Regions from separate parts of the Homo sapiens genome. Here region 1 is linked to region 2. Evidence: fine-mapped expression QTL. Tissue or cell type: whole blood. Region 2 holds a variant in brackets; the other region holds the start of a gene. All regions are shown on one strand. Distances are from middle to middle.

Region 1 (2,500 bases), 37 kb after region 2:
ATCTTTAGGCAGCATTTCCCTCTCAACAGGGAGCATGCCACCTCCCCTGGGTGCAGATCCCAGGAAAAGTTACACTGACCAAATCAGGCCACTCCCTGGGACTGTTTCCTCAATTTTGGTTAATAATCAAAGGATGATCTGAAATCGCAAAGAAGAGACTCTTGGAAAAGACATAATTATGGTGCCACCCGACTTAGGAACTGGCATCCAAGTCCACCTGTGTGACTTTCCTCTGGGCCTCAGTTTCTCCATCTGTAAAATGAGGTCCTGTATTTATTTTTTGAGACGGAATCTCCCTCTGTCGCCCAGGCTGGAGTGAAGTGGTGTGATCTCGGCTCACTGCAACCTCTGCCTCCCAGGTTCAAGCAATTCTCTGCCTCAGCCTTCCGAGTAGCTGCTGGGATTACAGGTACCCGCCACCACACCCGGCTAATTTTTGTATTTTTAGTAGAGACGGGGTTTCACCATCTTGGCCAGGCTGGTATTAAACTCCTGACCTCGTGATCCACCCGCCTCGGCCTCCCAAAGTGCTGGGATTACAGGCGTGAGACACCGCACCCGGCCGAGGTCCTGTATTAAATGGATCCTTGCCAGCTCCTACAACATAAGGCATTAAATGTTCCCACAACTTGCTCCCCGCCGGCTGGCAGCGAACAGGGCTAAAGCCTCGACTTCCTCAGAGGTGAAAAGGTAAGCAAACATTCCGACCTCCCCTAGCCTTGCTCTCGGATTGGTGCTGGGCCCGGCTCCCACCGCCTATCCCGACCACATCCGTCATCTGGACTGCTAATACACTCATTAGCATAAAGATTCCTCCGAAGACCTGGCGCACGGGGCTGAACCGGAGTCTGTCCCTTTAAGGAAGAGGGACAGCCACTCTGTCCCTAAGGGCACTAGGCACTGCATTTCCTCCACACGGGCCACGCTGTAAACTAGACAGGTTCCGTGTTAATCCACTCTCCCTCCTCAACCCCGACAGGGGGATCCCTGGAGTGAACAACGCGCGGGGTCCCGGGGGACTGCGGAAAGGTTTGGCCTCTGCGCGTAGCAGGCTCCGCCAGGCAACCTCTCGCCCGAGGCGGCGGCGAGCTGCAAGCTAGGTGGAGCCGGCTGCGCGGCGGGACCCCAGCGCCCTGGGGCAAGACCCTGGTGCTGGCGCCAGGGCAGCCGCGGGAGGTGGCGTGTGCAGGAGCGGAGAGGTGCGCCCACCCCGGCCCCGGGCGCGAGGGGGGCGGGGCTTGGGCCGCGGCCCGGGGCCAGGCTCGCGGGGATGGGCGGTGCTGGGTCTGCGGGAGCGGGCGGGGGGCGGGGCGCGCGAGCGGGCTCCGGGGGGGCGGGGCGGCGGCGCGGGGCGGGCTCTGGCGGCCTGAGTGTCACACACGCGGCGGCTCGGGAGGCGGCGGCAGTGGCAGCGACAGGCGCCGCCGGGACGGGCACGGGCGCGCGGGCTCCGGCGGGCGCCGGCTGCCTTCCTCCGTCGCTCGCTGTCTCTCCCGGCCGCATTCTCCTCCGCTGCGGGGCCGAGCTCTCCCCAGCGCTCGCAGGAAGGAAGAAGGGAGCCGAGGACGCCGAGAAGTTCCCGCGGCAGCCGCGGATCCCGGCCAAGGCGGAGGCTGCGGCTCCGACGGGGCAGGAGCGCGATCCACGGCGAGGGGCGTACGGCCAAAGGGTCCGCGGCGTGGAGCGCTCGGACCTTCCGCTCTCCCCCGGGCGTGGGCCGGGACCCCATGAGACGCGCCCACGAGGGGCGCGAGATTCCTAGCTTGGGCGGCGCTAGGCGGAGGGAGGTGTTGCAGCCGCCGGAGCCAGAGAGCTGCCGGCAGGAGGCGGCGGCGGCAAGAACTTGAACTTGGCGTCGGGAGCGGGCGCCCCGGACGCCCCCCGCCGGGGCCGGGGCGCCGAGGGACCTGCGCCGCAGCGCTGCCCCCCGAATGGCCGCGGCGGCGGACCGGGCTCCCGCGCCGCGGCCCTAGGCGGCCTCTCGCCATGGCCAAGTGGCTAAACAAGTACTTCAGCTTGGGCAACAGCAAGACCAAGAGCCCCCCGCAGCCGCCGCGGCCAGACTACCGCGAGCAGCGGCGCCGAGGCGAGCGGCCTTCGCAGCCCCCCCAGGCCGTGCCGCAGGCCTCCTCCGCCGCCTCGGCGTCCTGCGGTCCGGCCACCGCCTCCTGCTTCTCAGCCTCTTCGGGCTCGCTGCCCGACGACAGCGGCAGCACCAGCGACCTCATCCGCGCCTACCGCGCGCAGAAGGAGCGAGACTTCGAGGACCCCTACAACGGGCCTGGCTCGTCGCTGCGCAAACTGCGCGCCATGTGCCGCCTGGACTACTGCGGCGGCAGCGGGGAGCCAGGCGGGGTCCAGCGCGCCTTCTCGGCCTCGTCCGCGTCGGGCGCCGCGGGCTGTTGCTGCGCCTCCTCGGGCGCGGGGGCCGCCGCGTCCTCGTCCTCGTCCTCCGGCTCTCCGCATCTCTACCGCAGCAGCAGCGAGCGGCGGCCCGCCA
Region 2 (3,008 bases):
TCACTCTGTCACCCAGGATAGAGTGCAGTGGCACAATCTTGGCTCACTGCAACCTCCACCTTCCGGGTTCAAGTGATTCTCCCGCTCAGCCTTCTGAGTAGCTGAGATTATAGGCATGCACCACCATGCCTGGCTAATTTTTGTATTTTTAGTAGAGATGGGGTTTCTCCATGTTGACCAGGCTGGTCTTGAACTCCTGACCTCAAGTGATCCACCTGCCTCGGCCTCCCAAAGTGCTGGGATTACAGGTGTGAGCCACTGCACCCGGCCAAAACTGTGAGGGAGGCAGGGAGCCCATCACCCTCCTGGTGGTGGCCGGTCCCCTGCCCCGTCTTTGGGCTTTAATTTCCTTCTTTGTAAAATCGCAAGGGGAAAGGAAGGAATCAAGATATCAAGTGTCCGATTTTCCCACTTTGTCCTGACTGACCTGCACATTCTGTGACAGTGTCCATACATACATTACATGAATGATCACTTGGTAAAAAAATCCAAAGAAAGTAAGTCTTTGTTATATGGGACACCCTAAAATATAGTGTTTACGAGCTCCTTCTCTCTCAGGAGCCAGCCTCCCTGGGTTCAAATCCAAGCTTGCCACTTATTAGCTATGTGACCTTGGGCAAGTTACTAAACCCCTCTGTGTTTCAGTTTCCTCATACTCAATACAAGAATAATATTTGTACCATTGCATAGGGCTGTTATGGATCAAAGAACTTAAGAGAACTATAAGGCACTTAGGATAGAGCCTGACATATGGTAAACACTCATTAAATGTGACTCATCGTTACCTAGCAAAAGCTGATACTCTCCATTCCACTTAAACGAAATTGAATGATAACTGAAGATTTCCCTTGGCTAAAATATTTAAAACTATAATTATTTCAGATATAAACTAAGAAGTATAATCATTTTGAAGGTAAATCTTTCTAAAACACACCATAAAATGTCTTTTGTTTTGTTTTTTGAGACAGAGTCTGGCTCTGTTGCCCAAGCTAGAGTGCAGTGGTGCAATCTCAGCTCACTGCAACCTCTGCCTCCCGGGTTCAAGCGATCCTCCTACCTCAGCCTCCCAAGTAGCTGGGACTACAGATGCATGGCTGGCTAATTTTTGTATTTGTTATTAGAGACGGGGTTTTGCCATGTTGGCCAGGCTCGTCTGGAGCTCCTGACCTCAGGTGATCCGCCCACCTCAGCCTCCCAAAGTGCTGGGATTACAGGCATGAGCCACCAGGCTCAGCCTAAACAGTATCTATAAATTATTATTCTTTTCCTCCTCCCCTGACTTAGGCTCAACAAGAATGGGAGCCCCCTGAAGGCAGAGGTCTCTATCTCTACCTTTCC[A/G]GTTGGCAGGAGTACCTGGCACAAAATGAGTACCAATACGCTTTTGCTTAGGAAATGAAGGGAGGACAGTCACAGGCATTAGGCTCTAGGATGCTTTATGGAGATGACACTCTTGGAGGTTGATAGGGGATATTGAGCTAAAGGACCCAGACAAGGGTCCTTTAGTGCCTGAGTTTTAAAGTTTTCTCACCTCTGTCTTTCCAACTACCATTATGACCACAGTTGTCCTCTTAAATCCTGCCTTTGAAATCCTGGGCCTGCTTAGAGCAAGGTCTCCCCTTGGGGACCGCCACAACCGACTGCCATGGTGCAGGCAAACAGAGGCCAGATCATCAGAACAGCTGCCCTTGGTGACTGCTTATTCCTTCACACACACTATGGCATCTACCGTTCACACACAAATGTGTGCGATTGAAATCATTATATTCCCATTTTACAGATTAAAACAAAACAAGGCTTAATGTGGTTAAGTGACTTCTATGCCACCAGTAAGTGGAAAAGCTGAATACTAAAATCACAGTTGGCCTGGCACAGGGGCTCATGCCTGTAATCCCAGCACTTTGGGAGGCTGAGGCAGGCAGATCGCTTGAGCTCAGAACTTCAAGACCAGACTGGGCAACATGGCGAAATGCTGTCTCCACAAAAAATACAAAAATTAGCAGGGCATGGTGGCGCACACCTGTAGTCTCAGTCACTTGGGAGACTGAATGGGAAGATCCCTTGAGCCCAGGAGGTCGAGGCTGCAGTGAGTCATGATCCCGCCACTGCACTCCTGGGTGACAGGGGAGACCCTGTCTCAAAATAAAATAAAATAAAATAAAATCACAGCTTGAATAGCTTGTTCAAAACCTGGCCACCAATTGAAGTGGCCAGGTGTGAGGACAAAAGGCTGGGCAGTGGTGGGGTGGATAGGAATCAGGAAAATGGAAGATGAGGAGTACAGGGCAGGCCATTTGAAGGTGACCTAGAACAATTTCACAGACGGCATAGGCACCAACAGCAGCTTTGTATGGGATAACCAATAGGGGGATGAGTCAAGATCACTTAAAGGGTGGAATGAGGAGCCTGCCTCCAGAAGCTTCCATCTCCTTTTGGATTCACCATGGCCTAGTAATCTGGCAGCCAAATGTGTTAGAACTATATGTAAACAAAGAGTAAAAAGGCTAGGCAGGGCTGGGTATGGTGGCTCACACCTGTAATCCCAGCACTTTGGGAGGCTGAGGCAGGTGGATTACCTGAGGTCAGGAGTTCAAGACCAGCCTGGCCAACATGGTGAAACTCTGTCCTTATTAAAAATACAAAAATTAGCTGGGCGTGGTGGCAGGCACCTGTAATCCCAGCTACTCCAGAGGCTGAGGCAGGAGAATTGCTTGAACTCAGGAGGCAGAGGTTGTGGTGAGCTGAGATCGCACCAGTGCATTCCAGCCTGGGCGACAAGAGTGAGACTCCATCAACAAATAAAAATAAAAATAAAGGCTAGACAGAATCTATTTTTTAAGTGCCCATACTCTGACACCACTTTGAAAGGCTCAAAGAACTTCCTAGTTTAGTTCTTGGTCTTCAGATTTGTTTTGTTAGGAAAGCTCTCATAAGTAGATGGTTGTTTTTATTTTTTAAAATGCATTATGGCGATACATAATTATCTCTTGCTTTGATGAAGGCAATTCAGG

The links.
Region 1: it holds the start of SHB, and the variant in region 2 is fine-mapped to the expression of SHB in whole blood (TOPMed, PIP 0.92).

What each region holds. Positions count from the first base shown.
Region 1 is chr9:38,068,132-38,070,631 of GRCh38, reverse strand. SHB (SH2 domain containing adaptor protein B) reads left to right here and starts at 1,405. Exons shown (of 6, transcript NM_003028.3): 1 at 1,405-2,500. The coding sequence starts at 1,987. RefSeq lists silencers at 995-1,804, 2,225-2,274 and an enhancer at 2,165-2,500.
Region 2 is chr9:38,104,414-38,107,421 of GRCh38, reverse strand. No RefSeq gene overlaps it. Among named protein-coding and RNA genes, the nearest start is that of SHB, 37 kb to the right of the region's middle. The variant A/G (reference allele first, on the strand shown) is at 1,339.